Linked DNA regions of Homo sapiens: regions 1 and 3 are each linked to region 2. Evidence: fine-mapped expression QTL. A gene starts in region 2. Each other region holds a variant in brackets. All regions are shown on one strand. Distances are from middle to middle. Region 1 has its middle 28 kb from the start of HYDIN. Region 2 holds the start of CMTR2 (cap methyltransferase 2). Region 3 has its middle 17 kb from the start of HYDIN.

Region 1 (7,964 bases), 31 kb after region 2:
TGTTCCTTTCTGGAGGTTCTAGGGAAGAATCTGTTTCCTGGTCTTTTGCGGCTTCTTGAGACCATCTGCATTCCTTGGCTCATGGCTCCTTCATCATCCCTTCAACTTTTGCTTCTCTCTTCGCATCTCCTCTTACTCAACCTGACTTCCTGCCTCCCTCTCAGGAGGACCCCTGTGATTACATTGAGCCAAGTTGGATAATCCAGAATAAACTTCCCATCTCAAAAATCCTTAATTTAATCACATCTGCAAAGTCCAATTTTCCATATTAAGTAGCGTTCATGGGTTCCAGGAACGAGGATGTGGACATCTTTGTGGGGCCATCATTCAGCACAGATTTGGGCATTGGACTGCTCTGTCAGTCTCCAATTTAATATGACTATTATGTAAATTTCTTAACCTTCCTGCAAAATGGAATAAATAATGCCCATCTCACAGAGTTGCCTGACAATTAAATGCCTGAAAGCAATTAGCACCATGTCTGACTTGTATGACAAGTTCAATGAATGGGAAGTTCAGGAATTATTGTTCTTGTAATTCAGTGATGAAAGGGCACAGTCTCCCCTCTCAGAGGACTTCAAGTCTGGTGAAGAAGATGAACAAGTATACAAATAACTACAGCTCAGTATGAGACAGTGTGATAAGGGCTATATTTGTCTGAAGTCACAAGGGTTCTCCTCACCTGACTTCAATCAGTCTCTTAGAGATGATCAGCTAACTCTTGAGTTTTGAGGTGAAGGAAGGCAAAACAAAACATTGTCTGAAGCTATGGTTGATATAAAATGCCAGGTACTGGAAGGTTGTGTATTTTAATTTTGATGAGGTCATATTTTCTTTTCCTTTTTTCTTTTTCTTTTTTTTTTTTTAACAGAATCTTGCTCTGTCGCCCAGGCTGGAGTGCAGTGGCACAATCTCGGCTCACTGCAACCTCCACCTCCCGGGTTCAAGCAATTCTCTGCCTCAGCCTCCCCAGTAGCTGGGATTACAGGAGCCTGCCACCATGCTGGGCTAATTTTTGTATTTTTAGTAGAGACAGGGTTTCGCCATCTTGGCCAGGCTGGTCTTGAACTCCTGACCTCGTGATTCACCCGCCTCGGCCTCCCAAAGTGCTGGGATTATAGGCGTGAGCCACCGTGCCCGGCTGGTCATATTTTCTTTAAGAGAAAACGATATTCTGGTCTTGAGCTATTATTTTAACTGCCCTGGGGTTAGGGAATGTGCTATTTAACAAGTAATGGCCTTGGAGGGCTAAGACTATGTTGGGTGGTAAAAGGAAAGGCAATAATGTAAAAGAAAGTTGAAATTTCATTCTGTTCCTCTTTCCTCTTCTTTCCTCTGTACTGCTGACTTTCATACCCTCCCTCCCCAAAGGGAAGGAGTGCCAATATGATTGGAAATATTCCAGTATTCTAGTTGGGCCAAGTTTCCTAGTGACCAGAGTCCCTCTGTATGAAAAAGTCTGCACTCTGAGTGGGTGCCATTCATGTGTTTCTTCTGTAAGTTTTTGCTTTGTTTAGTTTTGTTTTGAGACAAGGTCTCCCTCCATTGCTCAGGCTGGTGTGCAGTGGTGCAATCACAGCTCATTGCAGCCTCAACCTCCAGGCTCAAGCAATCATCTCATCTCAGCCTCATGAGTAGCTGAGATTACAGGTGTGTGCCACCACTCCCAGCTAATTTTTGTATTTTTTGTAAAGATGAGGGTCTTACTGTGTTGCCCAGGCTGGTTTTGAACTCCTGGACTCAGGTGATCCTCCCATGATCTCAGCCTTCCAGAGTGCTGGGATTATAGGTATGAGCCACTGCACCCTGCCTGTCTCTCCTGTAGTAAGTACCAGGGTCCACATTCTTCCTTCTCTATAGCAGCTGGCCTGAGCACATATGCTCTCCCTGTTCTGTCTTGTTTCCTAATTTGATCCCCATCTTACTTAACCATGTAGCAGCATGTGACACAGATTGTTGTCTTGACCTCTAGAGCACCATTTTCTCCTGTTTGCCTCCTATCTTGTGTCCACTGCTTCTCAGTCATCTCTGTTGGGTCCTCATTTCCCCGACTTAACATTCAAATACCCCAAGGCTCAGTCCCAAGACATCGTCTCCCTTCTGTCTCTTATGGATTTAAATATCATCTCTATATTGATGATGTTGGCATTAATTTTCTATAGCAGCTTAAAACAACATGAATTCACCTTACAGTTTTTAGGTCAGATGTCTGACATGGGTCTCACTGGGCTGAAATCAACCTGTCAGTGGGGCTGCCTTCCTTTCTAGAGGTTCTAGGGAAGAATTTGTTTCCTTGCCTTTTTCAGCTTCCAGATGCTTCCTGCATTTCTGAGCTTGTGGCTACCTTCCTTTATTTTCAAAGCCCACAAAATCTTATCTCTTGGAGCCTTCTTTGGCCACAGCAGGAAGAGTTATCTGCTTGTAAGGACCCATTTGATTCCACTGGGCCTGCCCAGAGAATCCAGGATAATCACCCATCTCAAGGTCCATCCTTTAATCACATTGGCAAAGTCCTTTTGTTGCCGTGTAAGGAAATATATTCACAGGTTCTGAGGATTGGCCCATGAACATCTTTTGGGAGGACATTGTTCTGCCTACAACAATGGCCAAATATATGTCTCCAGACTAGACCATTCTCCTGAACTCCAGAACTGTATATTCAATCACCTACTTGGCATCTCCATTTGGCTGTTTGGTAGACATCTCTAACCTACCTTGTCCAAAACTGAGCTCTTGAGCAACCTCCCCAAAACCTGCTCTTCTCACATTCTTCACCATGTCAGTGGATGGAACCTCTGCCCTTCAAATTGCTCAGGCCAAAACTCTAAGGATTACCCTTGACTCCTCTCTTCCTTTTGCTCCTGTATCTAGTCTTTCAGCAAATCCTGTTGGCTCTACTTTTAAAAGTTATTGATAGTGTGACAACTTTTCACCTCCTTCACTGCTATTGCCCTTTCTTAGCAACCATCACCTCCCATAGACCATTACAATAGCTTTCTAATGGTGTCTTTGTGTCTGTCTTGCTCCCTTTCATTCTATACCCAACACAGCAGCCAAAGTGATCTCATTGAAAAATAAGTTGGGTAAAGTCATTCCTCTGTTCAAAAACCAGAGACAAATTTCCATGTCACTTGGAGCAAAAGTCCAAGTCCTTAAAATGGCCTACAAGGCGCTAGGTGCTTTGTGTCCCCAGCCCTCACATTCTGTCTTTGGCCTTCTCTCTTCACCTTGCACGAGCCATCCAGCCACAGCAGCTTCCTTACAATTTCACAAATATTCAAAGCACTTTCACACGTCAAGATCTTCACACAAGCTGTTTCCTCTGCCTGGAACTCTCTGCCTCTAAAAAACCACATGGCTTACTCTGTCACCTCCTCCAAGTGTTTGTTCAAATGTCGCCTTTTTAGTGGGAGCCACCCCGAAACCTTTTATTTAAAATTGTATCTCTCTTACATTGCCCTTTTATGCTTTGTTTTTCCTGCACTTTATAATTTACTTATCTATCTTGCTATGGTCTATTTCCTCCATTAGAAAGTAAACTCCACAGAGGAAGGAGTTTATTCTTTGTGTTCGCTGCATATCCTCAGTACTAAGAACAGCGCGTAGTGGATTCTCAATTAAATGGGTGCGTGAATGAGTGAATGAATTCTCTCTAGCATCAGTGAGTGGATTTTGTTTTCTCCTTCCTTCCATCAAAATAATGAAGACCTCACTTGATCACTGGGAGGCTGGGATGAACAATGCAACACTGGCCAGCTCTCGTTTTAGGATGAGAGGCTTCTGAAAATTGACCTGCTTACTACTTGTACAGGTTTTTTACTGAAGAAATAAAACAAACAAGTCAACCCACTGATCCGTCTCTCAGTGCTTGCAATGAGAAAAGTTACAAAATTTAATCACTGTCTGTCATTTCTGATTCAAGGGAGTTAATAAAAGGATTAGATTAGTCCTCCTCTACCAGCTTCTCCTTACACTAAGAAGCAGGTGGTTGTCATGCCCACAGAGTCTGACTTGGAGTAAGCTCTTTTCTGTGTGCCATTCCTCTTGGAAGGAGTCCAAAACTAGCCAGACATTTGAGGGGAAAAAAAGGAACAAATTTCAAGGGAGTTGAGAAAATGCAGTGTTCTGAATTTTTTTCTCCCTATTGCTTTGTTTACCAGGCTGACCTTGAACTTCTGGGCTCAAGCAATCCTCCCAGAGTAGCTGAGACTACAGGTGTGAGCCAACATGCCCATCTATTTTTTTAAAGAGGAATTAATTACGTTCATTTAAAAGGGAAGGAATTCTCCTCTGAATTCAAGGTCTAAAAATTGATTCCAGGTTTGG[T/G]GTAGGAAATGTAAATGATGAACCTGGAACCTTTTGTTATGTTCAGGAAGGAAGAAAACCATTGACTGCCAGAGTTGTGGTGAATGGAACAGGAACAATTACGAGAATCAAAAAGAATAATCACTGCAATTGACTGAAGCATATCAAACATAAAAATATCTGAGCTCATTATGATACGTTAGAAAACTGTCATTCTAAATTTCTATGGTACCAACTCATTACTCTGGAAATTAATGAAGGTTCAGAATCAAGAATTTATTCTGTTTTTTTCTATATGAACTCTATTCAGGGAAAAATAGCTGATGAGGCAAGTTATTCTTTGTATTTGTATTTTTATTTTTTCTTTTTCTGATTTTGAAAGTTACTGAAGATGTCAGGGTAGAGCATAAGAAACTACTTTTTTCCTCCTGGGCCATTTGAGAGTCAGTTACCAACCTGATGCCCATCACTCCTGAACACTTCAGTGTGCATTTCCTACAAACAAGGACACTCTTAGATAACCATGGTCCAATCAGTAAAATTAGGAAATTTAACACTGTTAAGCCAGTTGTTCCAATAACATCCTTTGTAGCAAAAGGATCCTTTTCTTGCAATCATGTGGTGCATTTATTTCCTAAGTTTCTTTAGTCTTTTTCATTCTGGAATAGTTTCTTAATCTCTGACTTTCATGACCTTGGCACTTTTGATGATTACAGGTCAGTTACTTTGTAGACTGTCCTTCAACTTGGATTTGTTTGATGCTTCCTTGTGATGAGATTCAGGTCGTGCAGTTTTGGAAGGAATATCACAGAACTGAAGCTGTGTTGTTCCTTTTGCATCTTATTATCCCATGAAACATTGTTTTGGTGTGTCCCATCTCTGATGAGGTTCACTTTGATCACTTGATTAAGGCAGTGCCTGTCAGCCTTCTTCACTGTGAAGTTTCTCTTCTCTTTGTAACTAACAAGTATTTTATGAGGAGATACTTTGAAAATATTTAAATATCCTGTTCCTCGTCAAACATTCATTTTATTCATTTATTTATATCAGTTGGACTCCTGGATTCTCATTTTATTCAATGAGTTGTAGATAATTTGTTACTATCATCATTGATTTTGATGCTCACATTTCTCAGATTAGAAATGTCAGCCCTCCATCAATCTGGCTTCTGTGTCCACTTGGCACACCCCATCTTTCTTTGAGTGCATGAGTGCATCCTTGCTTTCTGGCTCAGCATGTTCAGGCATATCTGGTGTTCTCTTTACTCCAACTCTTGAAACAGACATTTCTCCAAGGACTTCTGATTCCTTTTAGTAAAGAATAGTATTTAGAAACCAAGATCAGGTGTCATTACCGTTAGGGCATTATTGCTCCCAGCCCCTTTTACACTCCTAGTGGATAGAACTAGAGAAAAATATGTAAGTGTGTATGAGTGTGTGTGAGTGTGTGTGTATGTAATGCAATGAGTGAACCTTGTGTGTATTCTGGTTCAAATGAACCAGTTGTAAAAACACATTTTGAGAGAGTTGGGGGAAGTTTATATGAACTGAGAATTAGATGATATCAAGGACTTGTTAATTTTGTTATACGTGACAAAGTCATTGTAGTCATGTTAAAAAAAAAAGAAGTCCTTATCTGAGAGAGGCAGCTGACATATTTACAAGTGAACTCTACCTTCAAGTGGGGTAAGTGAGATACAGGTGGAATATAGAAAGGACTATCTAATTTATTATTCCATATCTATATATATACACACACACATACATACACACATATTGTATGTATAGATATAAAATGTGAGATTAAACTTGAGCTTATTATACGTTATATATATATATAATGTGAGATTAAACTTGAGCTTATTTTACAAGTATCTGAAGTCTCAGCGCTTTACATGCAATGTTTGAACTCATTTAAACCAAAAGCTTCCTGTTGAAAGTAAACTTGAATCACAAGCCCCATTTTATAAGACCCAGAAAGGCTTTGATATGTCTGGAGTAGAAGACTTGTCTCCTGACCTTGAGTTTAGTGCATAATATACATCTTATCTCAAAGATAGAGTTGATAATTTGTACTGTCATAATGTATTCTTGGCTTTGGTTCAGGTTATGTGACATTAAAAGATTACTTAGGACCAAATGCAAAACCTTTCATAATCCTGTCTGTGAACTGTTGCTGGTTTGAGCACAGGGGCCGATATAGACATAAGGACATCTGTCCCTCACTGGGCAGGGGAGCTGGCCTCTAGCCTCTACAGCTGTTCCCTGCTGGAGCGGCCATAGTTCAGCAGTGCTTATTAACATTTTGAGCAGCTGTGGCAGCAAGCAGTTTGGTACAAAACAATCCATCAATTAATCTCTTTGTTATTGGACAGTTCAGACGCTTGTGCCTTGGTTAATGCTGTAAAAGGGTTGAGAAGGGTGTGACTCTTGTCTGTTACAGACAGTGACCCCACAGGAAGCTCCAGAGCCCGGAGAAGAGTGACAGTGTCAGGAGGTGGCGAGACAAATAGTGTGTGGGTTGTACACAACTCGCTCAACCCTGGCTGGCTGTGGCTTTGTCTCCCACCCTAGGAAGCATATTAGAATGGCAGCAAGGAGACAGCCAACCTCAGCTCCTCTTTATAAAGAAAAGTAAATTATTGGAAAACTTTAATACTTGGAGCATTGCTAACAAACTCTTGTCAGAATATCATGGTTCAGAGGCACTGTTCTAGTGGAATACTTTTAATAAAGAAAAGAAATGAAAAACAATCTCTACACACTTCCACAGAATTGTCCAGAGGCCCGACTCTTGCCAATGCTGAAAAATCCCTTGGAAATCTTCAGCTTTGCACTTAATTACCACCTCCTTTGGCTGTCTCTCTTTTACTGCTTTTCTCTCCTTCCCCTGTGATTCCCTTCTTGTTGCCAAACACACTTTCTCTTCCAGACACCATCTGCTTTCAGAATACATTTGCACTTTTTTTTCCTACCCAAAGTGGCCCTACTCTAGGGCCTATGTTTTCCCCTTTCTGGACTGCTGCTGTTGTGTTAGCGCCTGGGTTGGTGGGAAGCACAGCTGTGGCTTGCAGAATTGAAATATAGTTGGGAACCCAACAGAGACATTGTTTTCTGGCCTGGCAGTATGATTTATGTTCCTGGTGCCCCCATCCTCTTAAGAATCTCAGGGCTCAGGGATTGGTTTGTGGTATGTCTTTAAATGTATTTTGTTTGTTACACAAATTCAAAGAATTCCTAAGCATATAAAGGAGGAAGTGAAAGTAATTCTCTGCAACACCAGTCACTTTCCCCAGAGGTAAGTGACACGCATAGAGACCCTAGTGACTGTTCTCCAGTGTCATGCATGGCCTTCGGTCTTTTTGGTATGCATGTATCAAAATGTGTAATATAAATACATAGAAATGGGATCATGCCATATATACACCTGCAACTTGCTTATTATTACTTTAAATAAATATCCTGGGCATCTTTTCATGTCAGTATACGTACATTTTCTCATTACATTTAACAGCTGGTATTCCACAGTGTGCATATATATGGCTTATTTACTCAGTCCATTGCTGATACATATTGTTTCCAATTTCTCATTATTATTACCAATGTCTAGCACATTTATCTTTATACATGTACAACTGTATCTGTAGGAGAGTTGGAATG
Region 2 (7,964 bases):
ATTGTTTTCTCTTTTTTCCCTTTTTTCTTCTTAGTCTCTCCCCTCCCCTTTCCTCTTCTGCTCTATTAAGGATTTTGAATATAAAAGGAAATAGCAGAAGAGAGAAAACTCTTCATGGAGGGTCTGAATTTAGCACCTTATCTTCCAAAAAAGAACGGACTTTTTTTTTGGAGCAGCTAACATTTGTCAGATACCAGCGAAGTGCAAGAATCTGTTCTAAGCACTTTACATTTATTTGGTAATCTTCAATACAACCTAGTGGACAGAGGTGTCTTCCTAGCCCAGGGTAGGTGGTGATTTTAACCCAGGCATTGAGATGCCAGAGCTGATGCCCTTCCCTATTCAAAATAAAAAGTCATGTTGATCCCAGCCTCCCACAGTGTTAGGCAAGCTATGAAAAGTGAGAGTCCCCAGGGCTAGTGCTTTAACAATTTTGGGTAGTGATTCCACTACTAAATTAAGTATCATAATGATTGCTAATAATGAATAATAATAAAGTAGGTACTTGAAAATCCACAGGGCTGAGTGTTACCTCAGTTCAGTTTTCTCACCTGAACTTTAGCCACCCATTGATTTCCAGCTCCCCTATGGATATTTCCATTTGACTACGCCATGACTGTTCCTAACTCTGTAAGAACCAAGCTTAGTTATTTCTTTCCCTCTTGACCATTTCTTATTGCAGCAGATCTGGTGCCTCAGTCTGCCTTCCATGGTCTTCTGTACTCTGGTTCCTCAATACCTGCTAAAGACTGAATCCCACCACCCTCCCAAATTCCCTAATCCCCAGTGTGATGGTATTTGGAAATGGGGCCTTTGGGAGGTAATTAGGTTTAGGTGAAGCCAGGGGGATGTGGTCCTCATGATGGGATTAGTGCCCTTCTTGAAGAAGAGACAAGAGAGCTTGCTTTCTCTCCACCATGTGAGAATACAGCAAGAAGCTGGCCATCTGCAAGCCAGTAAGAGAGCCTCAATCTCGAACTTCTAATCTCCCACTTGAGAAAACAAATTTCTGATGTTTAAGCCACACTCTCTGGTATTTGTTGTAACAGCCTGATATGGTTTGGTTCCGTGTCCCCACCCAAATCTCATTTTGAATTATAATTGACAGAGCAGGAGTATCGCCATCTTGGACAAGGACTGTCATTTAAAAATTCACCTTAATCAAAAACCACCTAAATCCAAAGGGCATCAGCCTAATGGCTAAGGTCAGCATGAACATAAACCACAAATAACATCTCTGACCAGAAACATTCCAAACTCCTCCCTGATCAGAAACATGCTAGCCCCAAGATAAGCCCCCTCTGGCCAGGAAGATGCTAGCCTCAGATAACTCCCCTCTGGCCAGGAAGATGTCAGGCCAAGATAATAGAAACATTCCAACCCCACCATAAACTTCTCCCCCCACCCCCAAAGAAACATCCAAGCTTGTGATAAACCTGCTCACCCTAAAACCAATTTATACTCTTAGTCGGGAAGAGAAAGTGCTCCTGACCAAAATCAGCCAGAAGCCCCCTCAGGTTTTTTCTCTAAAATAAACCTGTCTTTGACTGTTAAGCCTTGTTTCATATTTCTTTCCTCTTTCTTTAACTCTTAAAGTAATAATCCCCACATGTTGTGGGAGAGAGCTGGTGGCAGGTAATTTAATTATGGGGGGCAGGTTTTTCCCATGCTGTTCTCATGATAGTAAATAAGTCTCATGAGATCTGATGGTTTTATAAAGGGGAGTTCCCTTGCACAAGTTCTCTTGACTACCGCCATGTAAGACGTGCCTTTGCTTCTCCTTTGCCTTCTGCCACGATTGTGAGGCCTCCCCAGGCATGTGGAACTGTGAGTCCATTAAACCTCTTTCCTTTATAAATTACCCAGTCTCAGGTATGTCTGTATTAGCAGCATGAGAACAGACTAATACACAGCCCAAGCTAAGACACTATATATAGCACCTAAGCCACCTATTTAGCATTTAAACGTATTAACTTTCCATCCCTTTTCTGCAAATCTACATTACCTGTCCTCTTGCCTGTTTTTTCACTCATTATTTTCCTGAGCTAGGCTGGCACTCCCCTTCCCCACGTAACTTCACCCTTAAAAGAACAGAAATTAAAGTTTCTTTTTCCCTAGTCTTTTCCTATATTTTTCCTACTAACTTCATTCTTTAGACTCCTACAACACTTAACTTGTACCACACAATATAGCACTTACTTGTATAAATGCTATTCACTTTGCAATAAATCCCTGTACTTTATTATTATTTTGAGACAGGGTCTCACTCTGTTGTACTGGCTAGAGTGCAGTGGTGTGATCTCAGCTCACTGCATCCTCAACCTCCTGGGCTCAGGTGATCCACCTCAGCCTCCCTTGTAGCTGAGATTACAGGTGCACACCACCATGCCAGGTTAATTTTTTGTTTTTCAGTAGAGACGGGGTTTCACTATGTTGCCTAGGCTGGTCTCAAACTCCTGGACTCAAGCAGTCTGCCCGCCTTGGCCTCCCAGAATGCTGGGATTACAGGCATAAGCCACCACACCCAGCCCGTGCTTTCTTTTTTTTTTTTTTTTTTTTTTTTTGTGAGACGGAGTCTCGCTCTGTCACCCAGGCTGGAGTGCAGTGGTGCAATCTCGGTTCACTGCAAGTTCCACCTCCTGGGTTCATGCCATCCTCCTGCCTCAGCCTCCCTAGAGCTGGGACTACAGGCTCTAAATATTTTTAGTTTTAATATAGTTCAATTTATACATTTTTCCTTTATGATTAGTATTTTGTGTCCTGTTATAAACTTTTTGACTACTTCAAGGTTGCAAAGATGTTCTCTTATGTTTTCTTATTAACTTTTAAAATACAGACTGACAATCCAAATGAAATGTATTTTTGTTTATGATGTAAGGAGGGTCCAAATACAATTTTTTTTGCATGGAGAGACACAAATGACCTACCACTATTTTGTGAAAATATAATCTTTTCTCCATTGGTCCATGTTCTGGAAGACTTGTAAAAAATGAATTTTACATTTATGTCTATATATCTATTTACATAAATGGTTAAAAACTCTACACATAATTCTAATATTCTTCTATTTTCATGCAATACTGTTGACACATACAGCCTATTAATGGCTGCATATAATGCATATATGTGCATTATATAGATGTACTGTAATAATTTAATTAATTCTCTTAAAGTAGACATTTAGAGTATTTCCATTTGGCTATGTTATTGAGATGCTGAAATGAACATTTTGTCCAAAGTGAGTGCCAGCTGTTTAATTATCTCCTAAGGATAAACTGCGAGGAGGAGGAATTGCTGGGTTAAAATGCATGTCCTCTTTTTTTCCCGAGACGGAGTCTCGCACTGTCGCCCGGGCTGGTGTGCAGTGGTGAGATCTCGGCTCGCTCCAACCTCCGCCTCCCGGGTTCAAGCGATTCTCCTGCCTCAGCCTCCCAAGTAGCTAGGATTACAGGCGCCCGCCACCACGCCTGGCTAATTTTTTGCATTATTAGTAGAGACGGGGTTTCACTATGTTGGTCAGGCTGGTCTCGGACTCTTGACCTCGTGATCCGCTCGCCTCGGCCTCTCAAAATGCTGGGATTACAGGCGTGAGCCACTGCGCCCAGCCAAAGTGCATGTCTCTTTTCAACGTTTGCCTTCTGGGCTAGGCGGCTTGGCTCATGCCTGTAATCCCAGCACTTTGGGTGGCCGAGACCAACGGATCGCTTGAGTCCAGGAGTTCCAGACCAGCCTAAGATAGGGAGATGCCATCTCTCTAGGAGGATCGCGTGAGCCCGGGGAAGTTGAGGCTGCAGTGAGCCGAGATCGAGCCACTGCACACCAGCCTGGGTGAGGGTAAGACCTTGTTTCAGTAAACAAACAAATAAATAAGTTTGCCTTCCGTAAGGTTTCTAATAACGTTTTTCTTCCATCCACAGATGTAAACCTGTTTCCCCATAGTCACACCAACAGTGGTCATTACCAAGGTTTTACATCTTTGCTAAACCGAGTAAAAAGAAAACTTGCTGTTTTCATTTCCATTCTTGTCTAATAATAGTTTAAACAGTTTTGTATATCCTTAGTGGCTATTTGTTTGACTTTTTTGTTTTTTGGGAGGCCTGTTCTAATATTTGCTCATTTTCCTTCTGGGGTTGTTGGCCTTTTTCTTATTGGCTTATTAAGCAACATAATTAATATATATTATGTCATGTATATATAAACAATCTTATCTTGCAGTTCCCTAGTTTGGCTTTTAACCTATCGTCTTTTGAGCTGCAGTTTCAACCCAGTCTGTACAGGAAGTAACAACTGTCCAGAAGAGTCTGAAAGCCCTTGGGGCCAGCAGCCAGTGAGCGGAACCAGCACGTCCTGACAGACAGGTTTGCCCCGTCCCTTCCCTCCCTCCCCCTCCCCCTCCCCTTCGCCTCCCTGTCCCTCTCCCTTTCACCCCTCTTCGGGACGGAGCCAAAGAATGCTCCGCCTGCGCGCGCCGCTTCCGTTGCCATAGTGGCCGGGGGCGGGAGGCTGGCGCCTCCCAGCTTCTGTACTCCGCGAAGCAAAACCTAGGGAGCTGAGGCCTAGGCGAGGCGAGAGTCGCCGGCGTGCGTAACGTTGGCGCACGTGACTCCGGCCCGGCCTACAGGGCGCGTGCGCAGTGGGACTTGAGTGCCTCCTGGTCCCTGTCTGCCGGCATTCGCGGCTGCGGGGCCCGGAGGTGGGACTGGCTTCCCGGTGCCGCGAGGGCGGGTCCGGACAGCCTTCCCCCCAGTCCGGCGCACCATCTCCCTGCCTTGTGGCTGGAGGCGCCGCGGACCCAAAGGGAGGGACCATCCCGGGAAGCAGCCCCGAGAGCGGAAGTGCAGAATGGCTTCCTCGAGAGAGTAAAGTGCAGCCTCTCCAGACACTGGGGCCCCAGTGGGCGTGGGCGAAGGTAATCCAGGCCTGGGTACGATTCCGGGCCCTCCTTCGACTTCCCAGCGGGTGAGCCAGGGGCTGGGACTGAGTTTCCTCCAGGTCAGGGACCGGGCCTCTGGAGTGGGGTTTGGGACTTACTTCACTAGATGAAATGAGATATGGGGTGCCCGGCCCAAAGTCAGCCCTGGATACTCACTGGCCGTTGTTTTCACAGTTGCTGGTAGGAGGAGTTGGCGGAAGCACTTGGAACTCCTTTATAAGTGTCAGCTGTGAGGTAAAAACTGTTGATGAGATCTTGTGGGTTTTGTTTTGGGTTCACTAATTTGGGCGGGGGCTACATAACTGCCTACTTGAGTTTGCAATATGAGAATGGTAATAGCGACCCACTTAGCAGAATTATGATGTCACAAAGCTCAAAGGACTGTTTAATGAAAGGCTCAGAGGATCATATACTGGAAAATTTTTCCACACACGCTGTAAGCCACATGCTTTTTTTTTTTTTTTTAAGTCATGCATTTAAGTGCTGGAGTGAAGTTGAGGTGCACTATTAATGACTCATATTCAGAACCTGAAGAGAGAGATCCCTTTTGTGCTAAGTATGATATCCACTCATTTATTCAGTAATACTGAGTGCTTACTGTGTACCAGGCAATGTCCAACTTCTTGGAATGGTCTATGTGTAAACAAAACAAAGATCTCTGTCCTGTGGAGCTTACATTCTAGTTTGGGGAAGACAAATAATAAACAGTAAACAAAAAGAAGGAAGTTATAGGTTGGAAGTACATGAGTACCATAGGAAAAAAATACAGCGAGGTAAGAGGCATGGGGAATGCAAGATGCAATCTTAGGTAGGCTTCACTGAGAAAATGACATTTGAGCAAATATTGGAAGGAGGTGAAGGAGTTAGCTGTGCTGACAGCTGGGGAAAGAGCATTCCAGGCAGAGGGACCACCAATGCAGAAAGACTTTTGTCTTGGAATGTGCTTGGTGTCTTCAGTGAACAGCAGAAAGGCCTGTTTGGCTGGAGTAGTGAGTAAGGGAGTAGTAATAAAAATTAGGTGGCAACACAGCAAAAGTATAGTCAGAACGGTGGAGTGTCTGAATCACTTAAGTTGTCCTCATGTGAAGGTAATTTCCTATTAGCTTAGGTAAGGTTTCACAGCTTAACTACAGCCGTTAATTAGTATGTGAAGTTAATGATTAAAATTAGACTTTTTCCGAAATAGAGTATAGATGAGATCTAAACATGGCTGTAGTTTCCAGCAAGCACAATGCGAATTAAGACAGAGGAGCTTGTTGAAAAAAACTTTTATATGCCCTTATTTTAAGATTTTAGTGAATGTGGAAACACCTCAGTTTTGTCTTCCTTTAGAAATTTGTCTAAATATAGCTCTACCAGTAAAAAAGAAACAAACAAAAAACAGGCATAGTGGCTGACACCTGTAATCCCAGCACCTTGGAAGGCCGAGTTGGAGGGATTGCTTGAGCCCAGGATTTTGAGACCAGCCTGGGCAACAGAGCAAGACCCCATCTCCACAATTTTTTTTTTAACTAACTGGGTGTGGTGGTGCACGTCTGTAGTCCCAACTCCTTTGGAGGCTGAGGTGGGAGGATCCTTTGAGCCTGGGAAGAGGTCAAGGCTGCAGGGAGCTATGACCTGTGCCACTGCACTCCAGCCTGGGTAGCAGAGTGAGACCCTGTCTCAAAAAAAAACTTTTTTTTAATATAAATATACCGTGGCAAACAAATGACTAAGAAGACACCTGTTACTTCAAGGAAATTACAAACTGGTAGAGTAGACTTGCAAATAATTTAAACAAAATAAGAAAGAATGAAAAAAGTGTGCTAAAAGAACAGTACAAAGTAAATGCTAAAAGAAACATCATCTGAATATTATTGTATGTATTACAGCAGTAGTTCCCTTTGTTTCTCATTTTGTCCTTGAACATCTGCTTTTCTGGAGTGATGATTTGATTGCCAATTTTTTCATATTTAACAAATTCAGATTTTTTTGAAAATCATTTGTAGAATGCATTGTGTATGCTAAATAAGTGCAGAATTTGTGAACTAAAGCATCTATTGATTAACATTGCACTAACAGGTACCATGTAATATTCATTGCTCTCCCTGCTGGAATTTGTAACTTTTCCAAAACTATGCCATTAAGCCATACTTCTCATATCCTTTTTCCTCTTCAGAAGGAAGAGGTTTCTTTGTTTCTGGTTTCTTTGGCAGTGTTGACTGCCAGAGTATGTAGAGTGACTATTTGTAATTTGTATATTCAATATGTATATTTCTTCAGTATAAAATTCTGCTATCCAAGTGTTAAGTTTTAGTGGCTAGAAGAAATAATGATATGTTATGGTGGAAGTGTGGAGCTGTCTGAACCATATGAAAGCCAGGAATCTATAGTTTGAGACATACCGGGTAAACAGTTGGTCACTTTCAGCATCAAGCAGAAAAAGGCTAACCACTCAAGTACAGCACAGTTTACAAGCAGTATGATGATGAACGTTAGTTGATGACCTGTATAGGTGATTGGTACCACCAAAGTGCCTGTCTTAGAGAATGAAATCTGGACAGAGGATGTATTCAACAATCCTACTAGTGAGGTAAGTGGCTTGTGGCAGGATCAGTACTGGGTTCAGGTACATGATCCTCTCCCTGAAGGAGGTAAAGTATGACGGGAACTAAAAAAAAAAAAAACGAAAAGTCACATGTTAGAGCTTGAACAAAGGTCATGTCCAGGGATGAATCTCTAAGGATGGATTTGTTTGAGGTCATGTAGGTGTTGTCACAGTCATTGGTAGGGAAGAACTTTGGGGAAGAGTTAGATGGGTTACTATGATAATCAGAGCTGTCATTCACTGATGATTATGCTTTGTTATATGTTTTTTATATGCTAGTATGTTTTATCTTCTTCTTAAAAAATGATAGGCTTTTTTTTTTAATGAGAAGAAACCAAATCCAAGAGATGGAATTTGCCCAAGGGTGCTTATTAAGCCATAATTAGCAGAGCTGGAATTTGAACCCAGGTCTTGGATATCAAAGCCTTTTTCATTATTCCAGAT
Region 3 (7,964 bases), 43 kb after region 2:
TTCTTTCTCCTCCCTTCAATCTTTGTTGCAATCAGGAAATTTGTTCTCTATCTTATCTGGAGTATTCCTGCCCCGCAAGGTCCCTGGTAGCAGGGGTCCTCACGTTTTATTTCATGAGGAGATTATACCAAGAAGTCTTCCCAACAAAGTTGGGTCTCACTAAAAGGAATTCTTAACCCAGTGACTGAGATAATAAAATCATGTTTATTACATAAGATAATGAAGACTATTTTATATACACATGGATATAAATTTTTGACCTAGTTTGGGAATTATTAAGCTGGCTTCCTTTTCTCCCTTTCACAAAGATTGTGTAAGATGTAACTCCACCCCCAATTACACAATGCTGGTTATTTTCTTTTCTCATGGAGTTTACCAGTGGGAGCTAAACTGAGGGTACAGCTTAACCTGTCTTCTTGTTTTGGGGACAAGGAATTTTCCTCAGAGGTCCATGGTTTGATGCATTAACAAACCCCTCAGGATACTGGCTCTGCAAGGGGAATTGTGTGTGCATCCTAAAAATCAAGTGATGCATCTTTCCTAACAGAAGGCATTAAAGATTCAAGTCAGACTTGGATAAGAGGCCCTAATAATGAGAAAGTTGTCAAAGCCATTCATCAGGAAGAAGCTAGAGGGAGTGGGGCCAGATAGATGAGATTCCAGGAGGTTTCTGGGGGAGGATCCTTTCTGCTTCTCTTGGAGGTGACACATCTGTGAAGCGGGGGAACCTGTTTGGGGTGCCGGTCAGAAGTTTCACCTGGCTTTCGCTTCCTATTATTCAGCATGTCTGCACTCTGGGAGAGGCGATGTGTGTTATTTACAGAGAAATAAACCAGGAGAAGAGGGAGGCATAGGGAAACGCACACATGGATGATAATGGTAGGCCAAGAAAGTTTAACATTTGAAAACCTTCCCCAAGTCTCTGCCCATGTCCCCATTTGAAAAAGCTGAGTTTCACTGATCAGAGAACAACAGTACTAATGATAATAGCTAACATTTGTTGAATGCTAACTGTGTGCCAACACTGTGTTTAGTCCACACATGAAAAGATGTTCAACTTGATTGGTCACCAGGGAAATGTGAATTGCAACCACAATATGATAGCTCTACAGATGCACTAGAATGGCTAAAATGAAAACATCAGAAAAATACTAAGTGTTGGTAAAGATGTGGAGCAACTGAATTCTCATACACTGCTAGTTTGGATTTAAATGGGAACAACCACTTTGGAAAACTTGCTGGCAGTATCCACTAAAGCTGATACCTCTGATCCAGAAATTGTAAATGTATGTTCACCAAAAGATGAGTACAAGAATTTTCATAGCACCACTCTATTTGTAATAGCTCCAAACTGGAGACAGTCCCAATCTTCATCAACAGTAGAATGGATAAATAAATCATAGTCTATTTGTAACATGAACTATTACATAGCAATGAGAATGAATGAACTCTAACTACACGTGACACTATGGATGAGTCTCACTCCTTATAGTAACCCTATGAAGCAGTTCCTATGATTACTCCCATTTTACTGATAAGGGAAGCTGCTTACTTCATTAAATGCATAGTGAGAGTGAATATTTTGCAGAAATCCATAAAGGAATTAAGCTTTGCATGCAGGTCCCCCAGAGGTAGAAATAGGAAGGCCTGACTATAGGAGCTACAAAAGAGGGCACAGAAAAAATTAAGCTGTTTGGAATGAGCAAAAACGGTAGTGAGGGCTCTGGGTTCCTCATTTGTAAACTGGGAAGTGCAGTAGCTAGGATTCAAACCCTGGCTATTGAGCTCCAACCCTTCACCAGGATGCACCACTGCCCCCTAGGCCTCTACTCATACAAGCAGCCTGTGTTTGGTATGTGTGTGGGGGGTAGAAGTAGTGCAGGCTGACTTTGCAAAAGGCATCTATCAGCTAACTTTGACTACCATGTGTTAGGCTTTGTATATTAACATTACTTAGAGCATAAGGTTTAATCCTCACAACAGCCCTTTGCAGTGGGTTCTGTCAACATGCCCATTTCTACAAAAGGGAAAACAGATGCAGAGAGGTAAAGTCAGTCATCTGAGGTTGTATGACCTTAGCTACCTCTCTGCATCTAGTGTGTGATAGAGCCAGGATTCAAAGTAAGCCTTCCCCATCCCGCTACCTGGCTCTTCGCAGCACCAATAGGACAGCAAAGCCATGGGGCCACAGTGCCAACAGGAACCATCGTACCAGATCACAGGGCTTGAGTTCCTCGAGCTGTCCCTTGACAACAACAATGGAGATTTGAGGCTAAACCCTTGAGGTTTCATGAGGCCACCTGGCTTCTGAGCAAACTCTCTGCCATAGGTTTTCTTCACTGTTTTCAAGAGAAGAGGAAACGGGCATGTCCATGGCGCTGTCTATGTCTTCTTGGAAACAAAAAAGACTGTTAATCAGTCCTCTCTACAGCTTCTCAGCTTCAAAATTGGAAGCTATGTCGAAGTGCTCCTGGAAAAGCTGCTTTCTAGCAGTTCTGCCTGCTAGAAAGGGCCCCTTCTAGCAGGCAGAACAGAGAGGACTTGTACTGGAGAGAAAAAGTTACCTAGCATATGGTGGGCATGTGCGTGGAATTCCCCAGTGAGCTCTGGAATGGGCACGGGCCTGTACCTTGGGGCTCTCGAATAAGAAGCCTGGGCCCTACCAACGTCTGGCTTCTGCTGCTCAAGAAACAGATGCTAGGCCTTCCTGCATTGCCAAGAGCAGAGGCCTTTGGGGACTCAAGTTTGTTTGGCTTGAATGTGTTGGTGGAGAAATGAGAAGGTAGGAGTGAGGGCATCTTTTAACATTATCCCATGATTGTAGAGCTTCATCCTCTCCAGCCTTAATTATGACAGTAGCCTCCTACCTGGTCTCCCTGATTTCAGCCCTTCTTCTCCCTAACAGACCTTTCTCACAGCTCCCAGGTTGTGAATCCCTTGCCGGATGCTCCAGCTGCCACTTACCCAAGCACATGATGCTGTTGAATGTCGTTGTGTTTTGCAAATGTTGAATCATCTGCCTACAGTACCTTTCCCACTCAACGTGGCAAGAACCTACTTATTTTTGGAGGCCCAGTTCACAAGCTTTTTCTTTGGTGTTGCCTTCTCTCACCACCCTCCTGGGTAGAGTTCATTGTTCCTGTCTTAGCACTTCCAAAACACTCTTTTTCTTTTTAACACAGAACATCCTGGCTCTAGCAATGTACTGTAATTATTCGCCATCCTGTCTGTAGAGTAGACTGTGAGCTCCTTATGGGCAGCAGACATGGCGCATTCACACATTTATCCTCATATCCCTAATATCTAACAGTACCCAGCTTGCCCAGGAGGTGAGTGTTTGCTGGATGAAATCCAAAGGCCCAGCAATCACACGCCCACCCAGCCACTCACCCCCTCCCCCTGCCACGCACACAGGGTGCAGTGGCTCATGCCTGTCTGTAATCCCAACACTTTGGGAGGCTAAGGCAGGAAGATTGCTTGAGCCCCAGGGTTTGAGACCAGCCTGGGCAACATAGTGAGACCTCATCTACACACACACACACACACACACACACACACATACACACAGAGAACAAACAAGCAAACAAACTCAAAGGCACAGTTTTGAAGTATGAATTCATAGTACCTTTGCAGCTCCAACTCGGCCATTGAAAAAAACATGTCCTTCTCAGGCTGGCTTTCCCCTCCACAGTCACATGACTACGTCACTCATACATGCCCCTTCTGGCCATTTCAACATCAGTACAAGAAACTGTAGCTTTTACGCAAGGCAACGAGTTGCTTTCGGCCATCTCAGCTTTCTCATCCAGGTAGGTGGTCGTTATCAGTGATGTGGTCTAATCTGTAATGGAGTAATTGCACATGGGGAACAAGAGCTTATTTAATCGGTGTCCCCCAACTCCCATGATGGGTTAC[T/C]GATATCAAAAGGTGTTTTTTGTTTGTTTGTTTGTTTTTAGATGGAGTCTTGCTCTGTACCCCAGGCTGGAGTGCAGAGGCGCGATCTTGGCTCACTGCAACCTCCGCCTCCTGGGTTCAAGCAATTCTCTGCCTCAGCCTCCCGAATAGCTGGGATTACAGGCGCATACCACCATGCCCAGCTAATTTTTGTATTTTTAGTAGAGACAGGGTTTCACCATCTTGGCCAGGCTGGTCTTGAACTCCTGACCTCGTGATCCACCCACTTCGGCCTCCCAAAGTGCTGGGATTACAGGCATGAGCCACCACGCCCGGCCACAAAAGTTTTTAAAATGGCTGGGAATGGGGGCTCACATGTATAATCCCAGCAGTCTGGGAGGACAAGGCAGGAGGACCAGTTGAGGCCAACCCGGGAAACACAGTGAGACCACATCGCCACAGAAAAATGTTAAAATTATTCAGACGTGGTGGCATGCACCTGTAGTCCCAGCAACTCAGGAGGCCGAGGCGGGAGGATGACTTGTCCCTGGGAGATCAAGGCTGCAGTGAGCTGTGATGGTGCCACTGCACTCCAGCCTGGGCAACAGAGCAAGACTTTGTCCCCAAAAAGAAAAAAATATCAACTAACCAAACAAACAAAACTTTAGTAAGCAAGCCTCCCACCCCTCTTTATAAGGGGGTTTTTACAGAGTTCTCATAGGTTCTCCCCAAACCCCACTCTCCAGTTTCTCCTAGTATTAACATTTTACATTACTATGATACATTTGTTGCAATTAATGAACCAATACTGATGCATTATTATTAATTAAAGTTTACAATGTATTCAGATTTCCTTAGTTTTTACTTAATATCTGACCTTCTCTATTCAAGGATCCCCTCCAGGGTCCCACATTGCATTCAGCCATCCTGTCCCCTTTGGCTCCTCTCTCATCTGACAGTTTCTCAGACTTTTCTTGCTGACCTTGACAATTTTAAGGGGTTCTGGTCAAGGGTATTATAGGGTGCCCCTCTATTGGACTGTTTCTGTTGTTTTTCACATAATTAAACTGGGGTTATGGGTTTGGGGGAGGAAGATCATAGAGGTAAAGTAGTATTGTCATCCCATCATATCAAAGGAGTAAGTAAATTGTTTAAAAAGTGAGAGTATGATCGTTTTTCCCTCTTCCTCAAACCTGTGTTTCCTCCTATAGTTGCTGTTTCTATTAATGGCCTCATCACACACACAGTCATGAAGGCTAGAAATTGCATCTACTCTTTCTTCTCCATCCTCCATCCACCTAGTCAATTTCTAAGAAGCCATTGCCCCAGAGCTTCCATATTCCCCCCTTCTCTTATCCATACTGCCTCTGGTTAACCCCGTATTATTTTTTCCATAAATGATTACCATAGCCCCAACTGGTTTGCCAGGTTCCACTTCCCTACCTCTCCATTTTATTCTTCTTAGTAGTTTCAACTTACTAGTGGTTTAATACCAACTCCATCTTCATAAATCTTAGAATGGTTTTCTGTCACATACAGAATAATGTTCCAACTTCTCAGTATGGAATTCAACCTCTTCAGATGCTAGCTCCAGATGACTTTGTGGTAAACACTAGTTCCCTTAATCTATAATTAATGGGCTATAGGCATTTAATTAGCTGAAAAAGAAGTTGGCATTTTCTTAAATTGTTTTCTCCAGAAGAGTTAATGAAACTATGTGTATATTTGTGTGTGTGCATACATGCACATGCGTGTACAATGTGTAGACCTCACTGGGGATGCATATCTCTCTCCAGGTACCCATGGCCCAAAGGGTGGTGAACACACCCTGCCCACTTGCTGCATCGTTTGTATCAAGTTTAGAAAAGCTGAGAAGATGGTAAGGAGAAAATATACTTGCCCAGAAGTGTGTGTGTGGATGTTCAACAAGATCCCAACTCATTTTTTCTTTTTTAGTGGCTTAAAACAAGAGCACCTTTTATCTCCTGGTTGCTGTGGGTCAGGAATCCCCTGCACAGCGCGGCTGGTTCCCCTGGCTGAGGGCCATTCACAAGATCCTTCATTGAGGTATTGACTTCTCCATTCATTTTTGCACTTCAATCACAAACACTTCTTAAAATTAATTGGCCAAACCTCAGCTTCTTGAAACTTATATAATGCAGAGAGCCTCTGTCACATTCTGGGAATGGCATTTAAATGCAAATTGAATTCCTTCTTTCATGGGATAGCCAGTTGTCTATGTCACAGGATGTAAAAATAATTCATCATGCTTGATTGTGTAATACGGCTGTCCTATATTATACTTTAATGACAAAATTAATTGGCTTTCAGATTCCATCTGTCGCTATTCACATAAATCCACAATCTTCGTTATTAAAATTTAAAAGTGCATGAGGAATTTGTGAAATTCTCATAGGCAGCCTGCTGGAGAACGTGGGAACAGTCTAGACCAGGGACCCCTTTTGTTATACGCTACCCAACAATAGATGAAGAGAAGGGCTGACCCAGGTGGGGAAACCAGAGTGGAGAGAATAGGAGCCATGGGTCCAAGAGCACTCATAGGCAAGAGCTTGGATCAGTTACTGGATTAATTAATCAGGAAGATGAATGCTGTCTTTACATATTTATGAAGACTGAGCTCTTACCAGCTCAATGAAGCTGTGCTATGGGAAAAGGCAGAGACTGTGCAGAAATAGTCACCACTGATTTGGAAACTGTTTCATTTCCTGAGCTAATAACCAAACTCATTCCTCAGAGAGGAACAAAAACTGTTATTCTGGGGTGGGAAAACATCTATGGATCATCTGATACAAGCAGCAGCTGTAACCAAACCACTGGTATTGTCACCCTCTTTGGGAGTCCCATTTATTCATGGTAGAGAAGGTTTCAGTCTTCCATGGCTCTTGATAACTCTGGCAGTTACAGTTGCCAGTAGCGTAAGTTAAGACTGTTTATTAAGGGTTTTGTGGCAGGGTGCAGACATTGATATAGACCAAATTGGTCAGAAAGACGAAGAACACACAGAAAAACATGGCCTGTATTCCACTTTATGTGGATTTAGGTTTGTGTCCTCATCTTTACCTCGGCTCTCAAGAGGTATGCATGAGCATGGGTGTGCGTGCGCGTGCACACACACACACACACATCAGCCACTGTGTTCTTCCACTAGACTTCAATTTTGCCCTCATTAATGGAACCACTAAGAATATTTTGAAATGCTTTTTTTTTCTTTCTTTCTTTCTTTTTTTTTTTGCTGTTTTATTTGCGGCATGACTACTTTTCTTAGTGCAGATAGGCAATATTTAACAAACAGTCTGCAACATTGCTATTATTCTGTTTTAATTTTTGTTTCTCCTTTTTTTTGGTTCTATTCCTGTATGGGGGAGTTCTTTTTCTTTTTTTTTTTAAATCGTAACATAATTTTAGATTTTGCCTTGTTCATTCCCCACCAAAAGTCAGTCCTTCAGTTTTCAAAGTCATCATCATCTCTGGAGGGTCAAGAGCTAGGACTAAATCAGATCACGGTCATCACTGGCTGCCATTAACCCCTCTGATATATCCATCTGCTTTTCTAATGAGGCCAGAGGCCTGACGACTCATCAAAGCCTCAGGCTTGGTCTTAATGGGAGGATAAGGGTAATGGGGTGCTTTTAAGTTTGACTTTCTTGTTTCCTCCTAATATCCATCCCAGTCCATTTATGAAAGATCACTGACTCCGTGTCAGCCAATTTCTGGCCCCCACATGATTGTCACCACATCTGGATAATGAATCTGCAGACAGCCATGCATCCCTCTGTCGGCACAGGGCAAGATTGCCAGGTGGGAACTTTGTAATTTATAAAATGCCTTCATGTCCATGACCTCCCTCGAACTTACAAACATTTTGGAATGGGAAAGGCAGGTATGATTAGACTTATTTCATAGACTTCAGAACTAATATTCAGAGAGGACAAGTGATGTGCCTGAAACGACTTGGTTAGTAACTAGCAGAGCAGGACTTGAAGGTCTAGGACTCCTTCCATTACAACATGGCTTTTGGGGCAGGGCCTATCTCTTAATAATCTTTGTAT

What was found. PIP is the estimated chance that this variant, and not a neighbour inherited with it, causes the effect. A credible set is the group of variants that fine-mapping cannot tell apart.
Region 1: its variant is the best candidate, but not a certain one, in a credible set for the expression of CMTR2 in whole blood (TOPMed, PIP 0.89).
Region 3: its variant is the best candidate, but not a certain one, in a credible set for the expression of CMTR2 in whole blood (TOPMed, PIP 0.54).

The regions. Positions count from the first base shown.
Region 1 is chr16:71,254,632-71,262,595 of GRCh38, reverse strand. No RefSeq gene overlaps it. Among named protein-coding and RNA genes, the nearest start is that of HYDIN, 28 kb to the right of the region's middle. RefSeq lists a silencer at 6,575-6,811. The variant T/G (reference allele first, on the strand shown) is at 4,327.
Region 2 is chr16:71,286,081-71,294,044 of GRCh38, reverse strand. It overlaps CMTR2 (cap methyltransferase 2), which reads left to right and starts at 4,643. Exons shown (of 3, transcript NM_018348.6): 1 at 4,643-4,909; 2 at 5,108-5,167. It overlaps LOC102723786 (a long non-coding RNA gene), which reads right to left and starts at 5,245. Exons shown (of 4, transcript XR_933707.3): 1 at 5,090-5,245. RefSeq lists silencers at 4,371-4,440, 4,521-4,890.
Region 3 is chr16:71,243,407-71,251,370 of GRCh38, reverse strand. No RefSeq gene overlaps it. Among named protein-coding and RNA genes, the nearest start is that of HYDIN, 17 kb to the right of the region's middle. The variant T/C (reference allele first, on the strand shown) is at 3,916.